Regions from separate parts of the Homo sapiens genome. Here all the other regions are linked to region 2. Evidence: fine-mapped expression QTL. A gene starts in region 2. Each other region holds a variant in brackets. All regions are shown on one strand. Distances are between the middles of the regions.

Region 1 (6,420 bases), 27 kb before region 2:
CTCCATTCTCTGCTGTGGGGAGATAAGGTGGGGACTGGAGCTGACGTGTCAGTGAGGGGCTGCTCAGGCCAGAGCGCAGCATCACCAAGCAGCAGTGTCTTCGGCAAGCAGGAGTCAGTGTGAACGTCTGTGCAGGCTCAGGGCCGGCCGGCAGCACTGCCCGCAGGCAGCACTCAAGGCGGTTCTCTGGCCTGCGCCACCGGAACCGTCCCTTCAGCACGATGGAAAGGTCCTCTCTGGTAGGTATGCCCCTTGTGGCAGCCACAGGCCCCAATGGCTCCGGGACGCAGCAAGACCTGGCCACCCCCGAGGTCTGTGTGTGCTTAAGTCTCACCCGGAGAACAGTGCATGGTGCCGTTTCTGCGGGTTCTCCTGCACCGATCTGCTTGCCTCCCAACAGGCCCATTTTCCTGGGGTGGGGGTCGGGGGCACTTTGGTTCCCAGGGTTTGGAGGTTTGGCCTAGAGGAGTTACAGCGCCTGCGTCCTTTCCTTCCTACTGCCCACAGTGCAATCCCTACCTGTTCATCCGCGCCCGAGGGCGGACCCGCCCATCACCTAGCAGGTGATCCCTGGCGGCCCCGGCCGTCTCTGATGAAGTATCTTCTGCATTAAGACTATGAAGCGCATGCTGCTCTACCTGAAAGGGCTGCTCCACTTGAAGGGGCTGCTCCACTTGAAGGGGCTGCTCCTGCAGCAGGTGCTTCTCTCTGCAGCGAGATGATGAGCTCTCCACGGCAGACACTGTCACCTGCAGCTTCTCTCCTGGCACCCGGGCCAACCGGGGCACATGGATGCAGAAAGTGGCACCATCAAGGGACTGAAGAGCACCCCGCTCAGGTGCTGTGAGGGGTGCTGAGGGGTCTCCTGCAGGGCCCCTCGGCAGACTGAGCCCCACTGGCCCCTCGAGCCCCTGGGCACAGGGCTCCCCTTGGGTGCCCGGTGGCTCTGGCATGTGTGTTGCGCCTTCCAGCACCAGGCGCTGCCCTGGCTCCTGTGCACGAGCCCGGGGTGGGGCTGCTGCCCGCCCCCACCCCTCCTTCCACTCCAGGCCCTGAACGGACTTCCTAGATTCATGCCAGAAAATGACATGCCAGAAAATGACCCTGCTCCCAAGCAGGGTCCCCGCTGTCACCTGCACAGGCTAAAGAGCTCCTCCCTTGCTCCCCGGCCTCTTCCCCATCCACTTCCTGCACCAGTGACACTGGGGGCAGCCCCGCAGCGCACCCACAAGTCACCCCCAAGGCTGCCCAGGCCGGTTGTGAGAGGCAGAGGGCAGGAGGCCCGCCGCCCTGGGTTCCTGGAATCCCAAGCTCCAAAAAGAAGCTGAGACTCAGTTTGCAAAACAAAAAGAGGACACAGGAGCACTTTTAACGTTCAGGCTGTATATTTCAGTTCCCCCCAAGGCCCTCGAGACGGACGATTTGCCAAAATAACCAGGTTCAGTGGCTTCTGTAAAAAGTCACTTCCTCTCAGCAGGAAAGGCCCAGTTTCGTGGGGCTGGGGGAGCTGGGGCAGTCCGCCTGCAGCCCCTGAGGTGGGAGGGTCCCCAGGACTAGGCCTTTCGCCAGGTCAGGGATGGGGAGGGAGGACAGGAGCCACCCTAAAAGGGAAAAGGGGGCGGTCCCCAGGGCGAGCACTCCCGCTCCCAGCGCCTCCTGGCCACCAAAGAAAAACCAGACGCCTGCGACGGGCTCTCCTCCCGCCCGGGCTTCCTCGCTCCTCGCCCCTCGCCGGCCATCGGGCGCCACCACCGCGGGTAGCAGGGCGGGGCGCTCTGGGAGCCGCTGGGTGTCTGGGCTGGCGTCTGCAGGGGCCCCGCGGGATCAGGCCGGCTGCAGGGGCGCGGCGGCGCAGCCCACCTTGTTGCTGAAGAGCCGCGAGAGGCTGCGCATGGGCGGAGGGGGCCGCGGGGCACCTCGGAGCCCGCGCACGTCCCAGAGGCGCAGGGCGCCGTCGTGCGAGGCGGTGTAGAGCACCTGGCCGTGCACCTGCGGGCGCAGGGGCGGGCGTCACCGGTGACGCGGTAGGCGGGGGGGACACCGCTGCCCGCGTGGATGGATCGGGGCGGGGCACCTTCCCTCCCACGGGCGGCGGCCCCGAGAAGGGCAGAGGGACCTACCTGGATGCAGTTGATGATGAATGTGTGGCCCCGGAACACCCTCCGCAGCTCTCCAGACTGCGCGTCGAAGGCCCGGGCGCAAGCGTCCCCGCTGCCCGTGAACACTGCGGACACACAGCGCGCGCTGGGCCTCCCTCCCTGCTCGGCCCCCCGCAAGCAGGGATGGGGCGGCGAGAGCGTGACCTGGGGCGTCTCCGAGACTCCGCCCCACGGGGGTATCCTGAGGCTCATATGGGAAGTGGACAGTGCCCCTCCAGAGAAACGGGTCCCCACGGTTATTCTGCTCCACCCTGCAGATGCCTGCGCGCCAGCTGGCCCTGCCCCTGCCCTGCTGAACACCGCCCGGGCCCAGTCCCCACTCCGCGGTTTGGTGAAGTTGGTTTCCGTGCCTGCTTGGGAAGCCCCTGCCTGGGGATAATCGTCAGGTCCTCGAGTCGCTTCCCCCCTACCTTCCGCTGCGTCGGCAACCTTATCCTCCCGTCCTCATTAACGGATCGGCACTCAAATCAAAGCCCAGCCCTCTGGGGTTCATGATCACGCACCCCCGGGACCCCTAGCGGGGGCGAGCCTCCGACCTCAGTCTGTCTCCTCCCCCAGGTGGCTGCCTCTCCCTGGGGTTTCTCCTAAGATTTCAGTCCAATCGTTTTCCAACTGCAACCTGCATTTGCATCCGTCACTTGGAGGTCTTAGCCACAGATCGCGGGGCCGCATCCCAGAATCTGATTTAGCAGGCGGGGCCTGAGAATCGGCATTTCTAACCAGTTTTAAGTGATGCTGCTGCTAGTCAGGAGGCCACACTGAGGATGTGGACTAGAAGAACTCACTTGGCCTAGGCTGGGCTCTCCGAAGCCGACCCTGATGCTAGGACTTGATGCAGACAGTTCACCTGGCAGGCGTCCCAGGAAACGCTCACAGGGAAATGGGAGATGGAAAGGGAGGGAGGAAGTCCTGTGGGGTCTGTCAATGAGCAGGTAACTACGGTGGGCAGCTATGGTGCAAGCCTGCCAGGGACCTTGGGGAAAAGGGGTAGGACCACCTGAGGGTAAGGGTGCTGGGCTACCTATCTATCTGAGGGTGCTCTGTGGGTACTTGTTCCCCAGCCTTTTTTTTTTTTTTTCTTACAGGGAGACAGGGTCTCACTCTGTTGCCGAGGCTGGAGTGCAGTGGTACCATCTTAGCTCACTGTTAACCTTGAACTCCTGGGCTCAAACGATCCTCCCGCTTCAGCCTCCTGAGCAGCTGGGACCACAGGCATGCACCACTACACCCAGCTAATTTTAAAAAAAACGGGGCGGCGGGG[T/TG]GGGGGGGGGGAGCTGGGCACAGTGGCTCACGCCTGTAATCTCAGCACTTTGGGAAGCTGAAGCTGGCAGAGCAGATCATGAGATCAGGGGTTTGAGACCAGCCTGGCCAACATGGTGAAACCCTGTCTCTACTAAAAATACAAAAATTAGCTGGGTGTGGTGGCACACACCTGTAGTCCCAGTTACTTAGGAGGCTGAGGCAGGAGAATCACTTGAATCTGGGAAGTGGAGGTGGCAGTGAGCCTAGACTGCGCCATTTCACTCCAGCCTGGGCCACAGAGCAAGACTCCGTCTCAAAAAAAAAAAAAAAAAAATGTTTGTAGAGACAGGGTCTTGCTATGTTGCTCAGGCTGGTCTTGAACTACTGAGCTCAAGAGATCCTCCCGCCTTGGCTTCCCAAAGTGCTGGGATTACAGGCATGAGCCACGGTGCCCAGCCTGTTCCAGCCTTTTTGTTAAAACTACAGAGTGAATGGCCCCAGAGGGGAAGTTTCATTTCTGGGTCTCTTTTCAGCCCCTTTCTGCCTTCCCCCCACAAACTCAGACAAATGGACATGGCCTGGAAAACCCAGTGTGGCTGCTGAGCTCCCCGCGGGTGGGAAGAGGATCAAAAACAAAGTCTGATCATCCCATAGCCTTGCTGGCCAAGACCAAGAACCGAGCTGGGCAACAGTGAGCTGCAGGCTTCGCTTTCCCTGCGGGCTCCATGCCCCGGCTGCACGGGGAGGTGTTCTAGGCGGCCGCCGGCCAGAGCCTTTGAGAGTGGAACCTTCCTCGTGTTCAATTAGAGGACCCAGACTTGGGAACAGAGCCGTAACCACACTTCCAGCCTTGGACACAGGAACAAACGAAAAATAATTTTTCTGTGTCAGACACCTGAATCCTGAGGGCATGTCAGGATCTATTTTCAGATATCTACATTCTGTCTTCATCCAACACCTTTGCTGTGAGGTCAACTTGAATATTCCACTGTGACTCTTCCCCAACCCAGTCTCCTCCCTCCCAGAGGCAGAGCCAAATGGCCCGAGAGTGTGACAAGTTGAGACCTGTAGGACAGACAGCAGGTTGCCTGCCCAACAAGCGATTCTGCCCTTCTTTCTTTCCAAAATAACCCTGATTCCATCTGGGCAGCAAATTCCTCAGATAAAAGACTTTATGATTCTCTATCTCTTGCAGACAGAATGGTCACAGAGAGGTATGTAGAAGCCCTTGGATGAAGCTTCCAGGAAAGATCTTAAAGGACCAACTCAGCTAGAAGACGCGTCCTTTCGCCCTTCATCCTCTCTCTCTGCCTGCCTAAAACATGACACGATGGCTGGCACTGTAGCAGCTATCTTGAATCATGAGGCTTCTTTAAAGATAGAAGGTCTGTGCTAAGGATGACGAAGAAGAGTGACAGAAGAAAGCTGGGTGCCTGATGACTTTGTGGAGCCACCCATTCCAGCCGAGACCACCAGCCTCTGAAATTCTTCTACCTGAGAGAAAATAAACCACCACCTCATTGGAACCACAGCTACCTGGATTTTCTCTTCTCTGCAGACAAATCCTAAGGCCAAGTGAGGCCAAAGCCATGTGGCCCTCGAGGCTGGCAGGATTAAGGGGCAGTCACTGTCTCACTTGGAGAATTAGGATACACCCTTTGGGACATGCTTTTGACCCTAGACCCTCCCAGCAGTCCAGTCTCCCAGGCTGTCCTGGAGAAAGGTTGGGAGGAGCCACCAAACCCTTATTTGCACCTTCTTTGCAAAACAGCTGGAAGCACGGGTGTGTGGAGAAGGAACGAGCACTGCCATTGGACGCTGATGATTGGCAGCCAAGGCTCAATGAGGGAAAATCCCATAGGAAGTAAAGAAGCAGAGAGGAGAAGCCAGGCTGGGGTGGCACAGGTCGTGCAGGGCCAAGTCACTTACAGGTGCCCGCGTGGTACTTGAGGGCGCTCACGTTGCGTCTGTGGGCCGTGAACGTGCGCACACACTCCCCTGTGTCTGCCAGCCAGCACTTGACGGTCCTGTCCGCGCTGCCAGAGTACACGAGTCGGTTCACCAGCTGCGAGGAGGAGCAGGGAAGGTCGGCAGCTGGGGCAGCTCTGAAGCCCCCCAGACCTCTCCCTCTATAAGGGGGGAAGGGGCATGTGCAGGTCTCAGTGGTGAAACCATGGGTGAGCCTCGAATGGCCCCGCCACCGGCCCCACCAGACTGCCCACTTCAGCACCCAAAAGCAGGCGGCTGCTCCTGCCCCATGGGGCAGCCAGTGCTCCAACAGGGCTGGCCGCCCAGCCCCACACTGCCCTGGGCCAGTCCCTGGCTCTCTGCCCCTCAGCTGCTTCCCCTGAGGATTAGGATGTGGACAGCCCCTTCCTCGAGGGTGTGTGTGGGGTACAGGCACTTAACTGCTCGCTCCTGCTGGCTGAGGAGAGGGCTTCCAGAGAAGGGCTTTCACATGGGGCTTTTGCTTCAGACAGGACAGAGAAAGCCCTGAGCGAGGGTGTGAGGCAGACTTCTGCCAAGACTGGAGCTGACAGCCGGGGACTGTCACGGGGTCACTGCTCCCCCTGCTCATGGGGCTCACAGTGAGAAGAGGGCCCGGGAGACAGTCTCACCCAGCCATGTGATGCTGCTGTCTCGCAGGAGGTACGGAGAGGGCCCAGGAGACAAGGGAAGAGGCCCTCGCCAAGATGGACGGGAGTAGCGGCCCCAGGGAAGTGCGGAGACTATTAAAATAATTCTGTAAATTCCCCTAGACTAAACACCACCCAGCCAAGAGCACTCCCAGCCAGCACCTCTGGTCAGCAGTCACGGACGAGAAGGCCAGGGCGGGCAGGCGGGCTCCACAGCTGCAGTGACCTGGCGCGATGGCACAGGAGACAGGCGCAGGCTTCATGCCCCAGAGAGGCCTCCTGCCACTACTGCTAGGGCCCAGGAACCAGGAGTCAGAAGCGGGTCAGGCACACAGGGCATTTCTCCTGTGGTCGGCAGGCAGTGGGCCCACCGGCAGGCAGTC
Region 2 (6,420 bases):
TAAAGAAAGATGACCTCTGTCCCCGTCCTTGAAAATTCCTGAAAATACCAACCCATATAACAGCAAAAACAATCCTAGCAAAATGGGCCACAGTTCTTTCATTCCAGTGTCCTGCTTGAGCGGGGATAGCCCTGCCCTCAATTAGGGCAGAAGGTTGGGCACCCTCCCTGGGAAGTGAGTGTCAGTACCTCAAGGGGACAAGCAGCCGTGAGGGTCACCAAAGTGGGTGTGAAGGAAGGAGGCACAGGTGCCAGACACAGAGCTGGGCAGGAGGGTGGGCCCTGGAGGCTTGGTGAGGCTCCAGAGCTGCCGTGGGGGCAAAGCCAAGTGCCCACCAGGCTACCGGCAGCCTGGCAAAGCCTGGGGCCTCACTGGGGAGAAACCCCACCTAATTGTGGGCTAAGCTGGGCTCCCACAACCCGTCCCCAGCCCAGGGGCTCCCGGGGCCAGCTGTGCATAAGACCCACCCAAAAGCTTGTTAGAAATGCCAATTCTAGGCCGGGTGCAGTGGCTCACACTTGTAATCTCAGCACTTCGGGAGGCCAAGGCGGGTGGATCACCTGAGGTCGGGAGTTCAAGACCAGCCTGGCCAACATGATGAAGCCCCACGTCTAATAAAAATACAAAAAAATTAGCTGGGCGTGGTGGCGAGCACCTGTAATCCCAGCTATTCAGGAGGCCAAGGCAGGAGAATCGCTTGAACCCGGGAGGCGGAGGTTGCAGTGAGCCAAGATCGTGCCACTGCACTCCAGCCTGGGCAACAAGAGCGAAACTCCATCTCAAAAAACAACAACAAGAAGAAATGCCAGTTCTACAGCCCTATTCATGGAGGACTGCATCACTGGAGCCCAGGCCTGGGGATCTGCATTTCTGAAACACCACCCACCCCTCTACCCCCAAGACAGTCTTATGTTTGGGAGCAATACCAACTGGACTTAACATTTCTAAAAGACCTCATATTTTCCATTCCTGGTTGAATGCCTATAAGTGTGTGTGGCTGTTTGGGGGGGATGTGTGTTAGTTTGTGGCCACCTCTCCATTATCCACACCAACTCCCAAGTAACCGGTAATCCAAAAGTCATCCCTGTTGGGTTTGAAATATCTGCCCTAACTATGTAATATTTTTTTCTTTTCTTTTCTTTTTTTTTTTTTTTTAGACAGAGTCTGGCTCTGTCACCCAGGCTGGAGTGCAGTGGCACGATCTTGGCTCACTGCAACCTCTGCCTCCTGGGTTCAAGTGATTCTCCTGCCTCAGCCTCCCGAGTAGTTGGAATTACAGGCGCCCGCCACCACGCCCAGCTAATTTTTTGTATTTTTATTAGACACAGGGTTTCATCATGTTGGCCAGGCTGGTCTCAAACTCCTGACCTCTGGTGATCCACCCACCTTGGCCTCCCAAAGTGTTGGGATTACAAGTGTGAGCCACCGAGCCTGGTCAACTGTTCTTATTTAAAACCAGCAGTATCAGGATTAGCCAATATTGGGGCTAATATCCTACCTAAGTTGGAAGGCCTGGGCGAGGCCACAGAGAGTTCACTGATGATGGTGGAAAAGCCCGCGGTGATAAAGAACTACCCACAGCAGAAAGCCTCGCGGCTCATCCAGGGGACTACGTGTGCTACCTGGGCAGTAGGAGGGCCAGAGCTGAAAGGGACCTCACAGTGCATGGGACAGGCCCAGGGGAAGGTGCACCCGAGGCACACTGACCTCCTGAGTGAGTACAGGGCACAAATAGAAACCAACAGGCATGCAGGCAGGGTTTACAGCAATGAGAGGGCTCAGACTGCCATCTACCCCTCACTGGCTGTGCGACCTGGGCGAATTACTTAACTCCCAGCCTGTTTCCACGTCTGTATGTGGGGTAACATAGTGTGACGACGGCACACTTCTCCGCACCGCTGGCCCTTAACAAGCGTCTACTGTTGCTGTGAGAGTCGTCAACAGGAAATGCCAGCAGAAGAGCACAATTGGCCACAAAGAGGCCACAAGGCACCTAGAGACAAGGGAAGGTTTGCTTAGAAGGAGTATAGGTGCAACTTTTTGTTTGTTAACATTGTTGTCAAGGGAGATTTCCTGCCGCTGGTTGACAAATGATCTTCGCCTTTGTAGCGGACGCCCCTCGACCCACCCACCCGATCCCGGCCGCACCCTGCTCTGCACCCGCACCCCACCCCCAGACCTCACCCTGCCCTGCCGTGCGCTCAACAGCCAGATGCTGGGCCCAGACAAGCGCTCTTCCGCTAGTGTGCCGGGATGAGCGGGGGCTGGACTTCTAGAAAGGGGTCTGCGGGCGCAGGAGCTGGGGTCCGCGGTCTGGGGCCGGTGAGCTGCGGCGAAGAGGTCAGGGAGGGAGTGGGAGGGTCTACCTTGCAGGAGCGCGCAGCACTGGCCGTCCGCGGTGCTCCAGAGCCGGGCCGTGCCGTCCTCGCTGCCCGTCAGCAGGCGCTGCCCGTCGGGGCTCAGGCTCAGCCAGTTGATGCCCCCGCGGTGGTCGGCGCAGACCCTCAGGGCCGACCCGCCGCCCCCCATCCCGCTGGCAGGGCGGGGAACAAGAAGGAGCTGCGCCCCGCTAGGGAGGGGCGCCCCGGGGTCCGCGCGGCGGCTCCGTACGACTGCGGCCCGCGGCCATCGCGGGGAACGGGGAGCCCGACTCCTGCGGAGGCACGCGGCGAGGGGAGGGTGAAGGACCCTAGCTCCCCGCTGCCTCCAGCCTCTGGGCCCGCGAACCCAGGGCGCTGCGGGGGGCGGCCCACTCGGGACCTCCGCCCTGGGTAGAGTCCTGGGCGCGCGGGCAGAGAGAACCCCCTTCCCAGCACCGCTCGGAGGATCCACACCCCACCGGGCGAACAAGGCAGCTGCGTCTCTGGTGCACAAGGAGCCCCCCGCCTCCTCTCGCGCCCACGGGGCTGGGGCGGGGAGAGGAACACGGGAAGCCGAGCGCCCCGCGCCCTCCCCGGCCGAGCGCGGAACAATACGGTCCAGCCTGGCTCCTCCTCAGAGACCACCCCTCACCCGATCCCCTCCCACTTCTCGGGCTGCGCCCCAGCCCCCACCCCGCGCGCCTGCAGCCTCCCCCCTTCGTCGCTGTGCGGGTCCGGGGGACGGCTCCACGTGCGACCCTCCTAGCTGCCCGGGCTGCGCCTCTGGGCTCTGGCCTCTGCCACCTCCGCCGCCGCCGCCTGGGTCCCCTGAGCCAAGGGCCGGGACGAGGGAGGGGGAGGCGGACAAAGGGTCGGGGTCGGGGAGAATCGCGCGCCGGGAACTCATTTGGGGCGCAGCTCCACCGACCCCTCGGCTACTCGCCTCCACCAGGCAAGCCAGGTCCTCCCATGCTCTGAGCCCTAAGGACTCTGCCCGAGGGGCTCTCGGGGACTTGGGGGCGGTCCCCCAATGGAGGGTGCGACAGGGAAAGCCCCGAGTCCGCCCTCCCTGGGAAATCACGCGCACACCCAGGATTCTACTTTGGTCTGGCCGGAGTGGGGATGAGGTGCGAGCCGCTGCGGGGTCGGTGGAGCCGGGATGTCAAGTTCACCTTCCAGCCGCCGCGGGCTCCCTCGGCCTGGGGCGCCTCTAATGGACCCCGGGGTCGGCCTGAGCCCTCCCGGAGCGCCCGGCGGCTGGTTTCCATTAGGGCAGTTCCGGCGCCGACTTCGCTGGGGACGGGGAAGGTGACCCCCCTACTCGGATCCCCCAGGTCCTAAAGGTAGCAGGATTTCCAGAACGCTCCAGGGCTCTCTCAGGAGCCTAGGGAGAAGGGCAAGGAAGGGGCGTCTTTGGCGAGCTAGCCCGCAATGGGACGACCAGTACTGCACGCTCTGCTCTATCCAGACTCCAAAAGAAAACCCCATCGTGGGGTGTCCCAGGCCGTTGGGTCGTTTATACCCAGAGTGGCCTAACCAGAGAAATCCGTTCTTTTCCCTCAAAACTTGTAAAGCAGCTGGCGCCTCAGCTTAAGGAGCGTGGCCCTTCCTTAGCAGGTGGTGGAGAGAGGGGCAGTGGAGGAGCGTTAGGACGAGATTTGGGGTCATCCAGCCGGAGAGAGGGAGGCCGAAAGGAGAGACGTTTTCAGGAGGTGGAGGCTTCAGCATTTGGATGCCTGCGAGGCGGGAGAGGCCGGGGAGCCTGTCTTGTGCTGAGAGGCTGGGTAGACTGTTTTGTCCCCTACAGGCTGATCACCAGTTCCTCTTAGGAACCGGTGAACCTCAGGGGGCCCATTGCACATCCAGGTGTGAAACTGCGGTGTGGCCTCCAGGTGAGGACAGACTCGGTATAGTGGGGATCTTGGGCAGGCCCTGCGGCTGCAGCCCTTGGGGAAGGTGAATGTGAGGACCATGGAGGCTGGGAGGGTTTATCCGGAGAAGTGCCAGAGGAAACCCAAACTTTCTGGGCAGAGGGGCCAAGGAGAACCAGGCATCGACTCTTTTGGAAACTAAGAGGGGAGGGGTTTGAAAGCAGTTTGGGAGCTGGGGACAGATCGTAGGTTGGGCGAGCTTGCCTGGTCGTGGGCCAGAGGAAAGAACCACCAGGAGAAAAGCTTAACTTTCAAGGAGGTCACCCAGGATTCCTGAGCAAGGTGGCACCCATGCACTCTGGTTCCTCTCCTCTGCAGCCAACACAAGCCATCAGCCCCATGCTCAGCTCCCAGCAGGCAGAGCGTTCAGAAGCGCCAGCGCCATCATCTTGGGAGCCTGCAGTCCACACACCGCTGACCTTACCTACTTCCTCTTTCCAGGTTGATAGATTTTTTGTTCTTGGCTTCTCCACCTCCCCCACCCCTCCTTCTCCGGTTTGGCACAAAGTGGCCCCCTGGTGGGGATGAGCCAGCCATCTCTGGGGGTTGAGTCTGGACTGTAGAGCTGTGGGTGCAGATGTCCTCAGCCAGCCTGTCTTCCCTTTTCTCTTGCAGGTCGTAGATTACAGACTCTCCTCTGGGAAATTGCCCCCAGATCTAACAGGAGTACAAGAAGCTGGGTAGATTGGAAAACAGCACCGAATTCCCCTGGAACTGAGGTCTCCCCTAATTCCCCTGAAACTGGGGTCTCCCCCAACCTCCACCTTAAGATAGCAAAGCTATAGAGACCCAGGAGTCAGGCTGGGTCCCCAGCAGAACCTGGGCTCCCTTCCCCTTTCACACCTTTAACTCTTCTGGAGCCTCCAAGAGGGCCTGGAGTCCCGTGGTGCCCAGGCCCTCCTGGACCTAATCACTTTATAAATGGAAGGCACCTTGGGAAGGGAACCTGGTAGGGTGTAGGAGGAAATGGTTAAGCTTTAAGAAGCAAGAAATGGGCAGTGTTTAACAAGTGAAGGGTTGGGGGGCGGGTGCATTTTGTGCCAGGGAGTGCTCATTCCCCGTGCCACAGGGACTGCCACAATTTACCCTGCTGGAAAGAGTGACCCTCTGGGGCCTCTCTGAGAAGCATGGTGAAAGCTGGATATTCCTGAGTTGTGTGTGTGTGTGTGTGTGTAGGTGGTGACAGAGGGAGGCACCTTGAGGGGCGCCCACAGGGAACGTCATAGCCAGAGCTTTGTCAGAATTGCTTTTTCCCTTCTGGCACAACCTGCAATGCTGGTGGTGAGGGTGCCTGTGGTCATCATCTTCATAGTTTGGGTACTTACTGTGTGTCAGGTACTGTGCTAAGTGCTAGTATTTTTCAACAGGACGGAAGCCTTCCCAGTCCTGCAGCCACCTGCAGACTCTCACAAGCACGGTGCTCCCGGGAGAAGACCTTGCTACCCCAGGCCCAAGGCAGTCGAGAGAAAACGGGAAGCCCTGAAGGTTTTTCACCCCGGGGGTGAGAGTGTATGATCGAAGATATATTTGAGGGTAATTGTACAGATAGTCCCAACTTAGCATTGTTCAACTTTATGATGGTATGAAAGTGATGACATTCAGTAGAAATTGTACTTCAAGTGCCAATACAATCAGTTTTTCACTTTTGGTGCAGTATTCAATAAATTACATGAGATATTCAACACTTTACTTTAAAATAGGCTTTGTGTAAGATGATTCTGCCCAAATGTAAGGCTGATGCCAGTGCTCTGAGCACATTTAAGGGAAAGCTGGGCTAAGCAATGATGTTCCACAAGTTAGGCATATTAAATGCATTTTTGACTTAGAATATTCTCAACTTGCAATGGGTTTATCAGAACATGACATCGTTAATCACTCAAGGAGCATCTGTACCACTAATGACATAGATGCTGGTTGCAGGAAGGCAGCCAGAGGAGGGCACAGTGTGGAAGAACTCAACTTTTTAAAGACAGAGATCAGCTTTAAATATTGCTAAGAAAGAACTTGGAGAGAGAAGTTGGTGATACCGGAGACAGCAGGCAACAGACAGAGTGAGAGGCCCGAAGAACAAGAGGAGGAGGGAGTCTCTTCTGGGAGCAGAAGGAGTGTCGACTTAAATATTAGGGAGC
Region 3 (6,420 bases), 28 kb after region 2:
TTGCAAAAGGGGAGTGTGCGGGAGGGCAGGAGGGGGCACACAGGCTGCCCTTGGTTGACCAGGAGGAAACCCAAGTGTGGGGCAGACAAACCCATCTGGGCCTGGGCAAAATTCCCCCAGCTACTTTCTGTCCAGGAGTGAGCCACCCCGAAGTCCATCTCCTCCCAGAGGCCAGGGTGGTGGGGGTTTGCAGAGAGGCCCGGTTCAGGGGTCAGCTCTGCGGGGTAGGCGCGGGGGCAGGGTGGGCTGGTCCACCCTTCTCAGAGCAAGTGAGCCCACTGTGGCTTTTCCAGCCCATAAGGCCCTGGAGGACCCCTTGGTAAGCAGGTGTCCCCCGGTTCAAGAAAACCAAAGGCGGCCCCTTGTATCAGATCAATCGCAGAGAACCGTGCAACTTTCAAGGTACTCTCCTACCTCTGCTCCTGGACTGAGGCCCTAGAGGGAAGGTCTCAGGGTGCCTCTGGGGCCCAGAGTCCCTCTCTGAGGCCCTTCTGGGCCACAGGGGAAGCTCCCCGCTGCTTGACTGGGGCAGGTGAGGCAGCTGAGGAAAGGAGAGGGCCTGTGGGGCCAGGGACACGCTGCCCACTGCTGGAGGTCTCATTCCCACCCCACCCACCACCCCTGTGTGGCGGGCAGCCTCCCACGCCTGGTGCTGAAGGGCCTAGCCGGGCCTCGGGGTGCGGCCACGTGGCCTGTACTCACGCTCCGTCCCCGTACACCTTGATGGTGTTCACACAGTTCTTGACCCAGCCCCTGCTCTGGAGGAAGGGGCTGTCCTCCAGGAACTCCAGGCACTGGCCCGTGAAGTTGCAACCCTCGAAGATTTCTAGGCGGAAATGTTCTCCGTGCTCCAAGACCAAGCAAAAAAGAAGGAAAGAAGGAGGTTGCTGTGAATTCCCCTCTCCCAGAAACAGAAGCCCCATGCAGGAAGGAATTAGGAGGTACCCAAGGCACTGGGCACCCCCACCCCACACACTTCAACCCCACACTTCTGTTTGTTCTTCCACATGAGATGTGGTTGGAAGAAAGGGTTCTATTACTCTGAAAATGTTCCAAGCCACTGAGCTGGTCCAAGCTCCTCTTTCTACAACTAGAAAATCTGAGGTCCAAAGAGGGCCAAACTGACCAGAGGCCAGCGGTCACACTCAGACCAGGGCTGGGGTCACGGGGCTCCCTCTGGGTGCTCAGCGTGGGGGACTCCGGCCCTGATCACAGCCACACACTCCGGGTTCTGACTTCCCCACCCCTGGGCCACAGCCCATGGGCAAGCCTTCAAATGATAACATTTTAAAACTGTAATAGAACCTTTTAGTAAAACATAAAGCCAAAAATCTAAAACAAATACCAGATCTCATGTGCTGAAACCCCTGCTGGCCTTGACATCATTGTCCCCTAGGCTCAGCACATCTCCCTATATGATTCCCGCATTTCCAAAAGACAGAGGAGGGCCAGCCCCTGCCTGGCTCAGAAGCCGGCAGGGCCTGGTCTGCGTCACAGCTGGCCCCAGGCTAGCTCTTAGGAGAACAGCAGTTCGCAAGATACCAAGGATGTTTTTCATATAAATAGCATTATGCAGGGTCCAGGGCCAACCATTTAAATTTCTTTTTTCCAAATGGACCACAGCCTGGAAGAAATACTAAGGAAGCATTCTTACAATTTGAGATGCCAAAGCCCAGCTGGTTTTGCAACTGATACAGAAAAGAGAGGGGGCACCACACAAAGGCCCCTTTACTGGGGTTCCTCAGATGTTCACCAGAACCACCCAGCCCAGGCGTCGGGGGAGGGTCCTCAGCAGACATAAGCGAGACGCTCTGTGATGAGAGATGCACGCCCCCAGGCTCAGGAGTCCGCCACTCCCCACCTGAAGCTCCAGAGCTCACAGCAGGTCAGTGAGTACCCATGACCTGGGGGAACGGCCTTGCTTAAATCCCACCCTAGGAGCAGCTGGACCGAAACAGTCTTTCGCCACCGGGGAGCCATGCCCCTCGTCTGCCCTCCCTGCACACACCTCTTGGGCGGCAGCTACCTGTGTAATTCCAAGGGACCTGCCCCCCAATTTTCCCCTGACAGGCGGGTGATTCTTCAGCTTCCTCCATCAGCCATTCCAAGACATGGAAGGCTCCAGAATGTGCCACAAGACCACCTGTACTAGTGGCCACACTAGGCCCAAATCAGCCTCCCATTGGCGGAGTGTCCCCTATCTGGCTGGAAATCTAAATTTGGATGATTTCAACAGCATTTTAAATGGAAAATGCAGCTAGATTTTTGGCTCCGAAACTTAAAGTGGTTTATTGATACCTGTATGAAAACTCAGGGCCACTCCCACTCAGTTCATAGCAACTTGGCCCCCCACCTACTCACCTCATGCCAGCAGGTGGCTCTGGGTATAGCTCCTTCAGTCTTACAGACTTTAAAGCCGGGAGGACCACGCTCCCCGATTCCTTGCCACTGTCTGCCAGGGCTGACCCTCGGTCCCTCCAGCAGGAAGACTCAGCCTTCGGTGGACGGGCCCACTCACCATTCCTACAGGCCGACAGGAGCCCATGTGGTCACTGTGGCTGTTCCAGCGGAAGAAGTCGGGGTAGTCGCCGTGCTCCAAGATGAACTGCTGGCCCCGGAAGTCGGGGTGATTGAAGCAGACCCAGGCTCCGCTCTCCACGTGGATGGAGTTCACTCGGTTCATAAAGCCCCGGTCCTGGAAGTTGTCACAGTCCCCGAAGACCTCCAGCTTCTGCCCTGTGAAGTGCTTGCCTTCATAGAGAGTGATCTAGAAAGGGCAGGTTACAGAGCTCAGGGTCAGGGGCTTCTCTCCGTCAGCGTTGGAGGCTGGCGTCTGGGTCCCAACACCCTGGATGGAACCCCTACTCCCAGGCCCCCAAAAGCCCAGACCTGCTGCACACAGTAGGTGCCCAACACTATTTGCCAATTGGGCAAAAGAACGAACAGCTGGCAGGCTGATGCCATACACAGCTACTGTTCCTCCCCACCCTTAGGAGCTCACAGTGGGGCAGACAAATTTCAGCAGCGATTTGGGGACAGGGGTTTCCCCTTTGTCTAGGTGCCCATTTCAAAATGGGCTGTTTTCAACTTCCACTGCATTTTTAACTCATTTTTTAATTATTAAAACATAAAGCCGATAATAACATTAAAGGAGGTGTTTTCAAAAGAAGAAATTTCACCCACAACCCTCTCATGGTAACCCAGCATATATTTTGCAGAAATTCGGGTTCCTGGGATTGGGCCTCCTTCACTGGAGAGGCTGAAT[G/C]GGCCGAAGCCGCGTCAGGGCCTGGCTCGGGATTAATGTTCGCAAAAGAGGGCTTATAAGTGCCACCCTGTCTCTCTGTGTTTTGTAGGTCACTCCTTTGGGTAGCAGGCATGTATCAGATCTGGAGCTCCATCACCCTGCTGGGAGTTCAGACATCGTGTCTTATAGCTACGTGGCACTCACAGGTTGTCCTTGTCCCGAAACAAAACAAAGTGAAGCAATAACAACCCGCCAGACTCATTTCCTGCTGTGGAACCTAAAATCTCAACCATTTAGTAACTCTTTGGGTTTCAAGAACTGTGGCCCTAGAAGGGTCCTGCCAGAGTGCAGTGATGTTCCCCATCACTATGGTCGCTTGTGCCTCACCAGTGTCTCCAGTTCGCTCAAAAGAACACGAGAATTGCCCTTCCAGGCCCCTTGGAGTCAGGCGTGGCCACATGCGTTCACCGGAAAGGAGGCAGACACCTTGGCGTTCTGCACCCCAGAGTTACTGGGGCCCTTTGTTACTGAAGCATCACCTGGCCCATGCAGACTGATACAGCAACACAGTCACCCCCAGACACTCTGGAATGTGGCCTTGGAGACCAAAGGCTTCATGGGAGTGGCTAGGCTAGGGGCACTGGAGAGGGCGAGGGAGAGCCAGGTCTCCCGTCCTTCCTGCACCAGGCACGGCTGGTAGAGGGCCCCTGAAACCTTCAGGGAGGTCTGGGCACCAAAGGGATTCGGGGCTCCCTCAAATCTCAACATTTTTCAGAGAACCAGCCCTAAGTGTCCCTGAAGAGACCCTGGGAAGGAAAAGCCATAGAGGCCAGCCTTGGGCAAAGAAGCCGCAGCAGTGGGGCGGAGGGCTGTGGGACAAGCCAAGCCTCCCCCACCCCAAGGAAGCCCCAGGGAGTCTGAACACCCTCCCTGCTCCTGACTGCAGGGCGAGGGGTTGGAATCCCAGAAGGAAGGAGTGGAGATGGAGACCTTCCTATCCATCCACACCAGAGAGGCCCCAGGCCAGTAGCGAGGCCACCCCATTTTATTAAGAAATTAAACCAGCTTCCCTTGGATTTGTCACCATCAACAGTGTGCACCCTCCTGCATCCCCTAGCACAGGGGGCGAAGGCGGAGCCCCACTCGGTTTCCTTGGGGTTGAGGGACGCACTCACCTTCCCCGAGCGCTGCGCCATGGTGCGCCCCGCCCCTTCCGCGGGTCCCCGTTTACACCGGGCAGCGCCCTGCTGGCTCAGCGCCGCCCCGGACAAAAGATTTGCTGGGCCGGCCCCGGAGCGTTAGTGCTGTCGGGCGTGCTAAGCCCGAGGGGCCACCAGGCGGTTGGGACCCGCCGCGGCCACCCTGTGCCACCGCGAGTGCAGCCCGCCCTGCCCGGGGTCTCCCTGTGCTCTCCGCGTTTAGCTCCCGAGCCTCCTTCCTCCCTGAGCCCTCCCGCCCAGCCCGCGGCTGCCCCTGCCCTGCCCTGGAGTGGTGGGGGGAGGAGGGGAGGTGTCTCTCTAGCCCTCCAACCTTTCTTCCCCTGCGCTGCCCCTCAGCCCTCACGCCCATCTCCCTCCCTCCCAAGGCCTGTTCCGAGCTCCCCAGCCCACTCCCCTTTCTCACCTGGCTGCAGGTAGTCTCGCCTTGGTGCCAACTTGTTTGTCTCCACGAGGATGCAACCCAAGCTTCCCCGGACAGACAGACAGCCCTTGACCGCCCCTCCCCTGGCTGCTCTGGTCTGAGCTCCCAGGTCCCCACCTTAGACCTCCGGCTCCAACTCACCCAGCTCCTGATGCACCCCCCCACACCCCACAAAACGCCAGGCCAGGTCAGGCCTCCCTCCTCCCGCTCTCTTCCTGCCTGCCTCCCTCCCTGGCACTCTCCCTCCCTGGGTCCCTCTCTCCTTGAAGATCCTGCCTAGGGTGACCAGGTGACCCGCGCTGCCCTGAGCTGGGGGTACAGTGCTCTGCCCCTTGCCTCTCTGCTGCACCAACTAAGCCACCCTGGACGCCCAGGATCAGTTTACAGCACAAAGCAGCCCCACCGCGGAGGGAGAGTTCCCCAGGGCCCAGAACGAGCACTTGGCAGACAGCAGAGGCTCAGAGATTGTGGAGTGAGCAGAGCGAACATGGAGCCCACAGGATGTGCAGCCCCCACACGGCTGGGGAGATGAGCTGGGAACACAGGACTCATGACTCAGATGGCTGGGGTGGTGGGGGACAGGCTCTGAGATCAAAGGAGAGAGGGGCAGGTGCTCCACAGGGGCTTCTGCTGGAGGGGAGGGAGGAGCTTTGGGGAGGAGTTTGGGCTGCTCTTCCTTCAAACAGTATATTTTTATGACCATTTCACAGATGAGACACTGAGGCCCAGGAAGAGGAGGTTATGTGATTCTTGGGGCAGAGGGGTGACCTTGCCTCTGCTGTGGGAGGTTTTCAAAAGTAGACAGGGTACAAACCAGAACCTGCATGTCACCCTTGAACCCAGGGACGGTCCTCCCTAGGGACGCCCCTCCCTAGGGACGCCGCCCAGCTGCCTCCACTGGCGCCCTTACTTGCCAAGCCACACATTCCAATGTTTCTCTCTGGACCTGGGCCCTGGTGGGGACATAAAATTAAAAACAAAATCTCCAGCCAACCCAGAAAACTTCTCCACGAAGGTAGAAGGAAAAAAAAACAATTTTATTATTGAATAAACTTTAAACTGGAATGCGATCTGCATCACGATCTCTCCCCTAAGAGATCGCAAAGATGGAGAGAGATCTCACTCTTCTGTAGCCAAGCAGACACAACCCACTGCATTCATGTTTTCAGGATAAAATTGCTGATTTTCTTGTATCTCTATGACTGGAGGTGGGTTTTGCAATTTGGAGTCAGGTGACAGCTGAAGTCAGGCTTCTTAGGAAACGGGGAGGGTGGGGGCACTTACTCCTTGATGTCAAGACTCAAAGAGGCTCCCAGAGGAAACATGACTGAGTTGTTAGACTGGCAAGAGGCTTGTTTAGCCATTAAAAAGATTTACACACATTTGAAAATGACAGAGAAGGAAATTCTGCAAGAAAAGGGAGGAAAGGGAAGCCTCTTCCCTTATTTTCAACAGGGAAAAATAAGCCTTAAAAAAAGGTTTTATTTTTTAGAGCAGCTTTAGGTTCAAGTTGAATTCAGCAAAAGGTACAGCAA

What was found.
Region 1: its variant is fine-mapped to the expression of WDR86 in whole blood (INTERVAL, PIP above 0.99).
Region 3: its variant is fine-mapped to the expression of WDR86 in whole blood (INTERVAL, PIP 0.96).

Annotation. Positions count from the first base shown.
Region 1 is chr7:151,379,758-151,386,177 of GRCh38, forward strand. It overlaps WDR86 (WD repeat domain 86), which reads right to left. Exons shown (of 6, transcript NM_198285.3): 4 at 5,331-5,466; 5 at 2,121-2,224; 6 at 1,367-1,989. The coding sequence ends at 1,825. Among named protein-coding and RNA genes, the nearest start is that of WDR86-AS1, 26 kb to the right of the region's middle. RefSeq lists silencers at 1,610-1,769, 1,790-2,029. The variant T/TG (reference allele first, on the strand shown) is at 3,421.
Region 2 is chr7:151,407,061-151,413,480 of GRCh38, forward strand. It overlaps WDR86 (WD repeat domain 86), which reads right to left and starts at 2,978. Exons shown (of 6, transcript NM_198285.3): 1 at 2,367-2,978. The coding sequence starts at 2,529. WDR86-AS1 (WDR86 antisense RNA 1) reads left to right here and starts at 2,101. Exons shown (of 6, transcript NR_109857.1): 1 at 2,101-2,322; 2 at 4,168-4,252; 3 at 4,610-4,732; 4 at 4,907-5,010; 5 at 5,659-5,792; 6 at 6,212-6,294. RefSeq lists an enhancer at 3,544-4,176.
Region 3 is chr7:151,435,478-151,441,897 of GRCh38, forward strand. CRYGN (crystallin gamma N) reads right to left here and starts at 4,664. Exons shown (of 4, transcript NM_144727.3): 1 at 4,420-4,664; 2 at 2,519-2,767; 3 at 703-848. The coding sequence starts at 4,440. It overlaps LOC124901780, which reads right to left and starts at 684. Exons shown (of 1, transcript XM_047421163.1): 1 at 1-684. RefSeq lists enhancers at 2,232-3,081, 3,443-3,943, 3,944-4,444, 5,156-5,692. The variant G/C (reference allele first, on the strand shown) is at 3,266.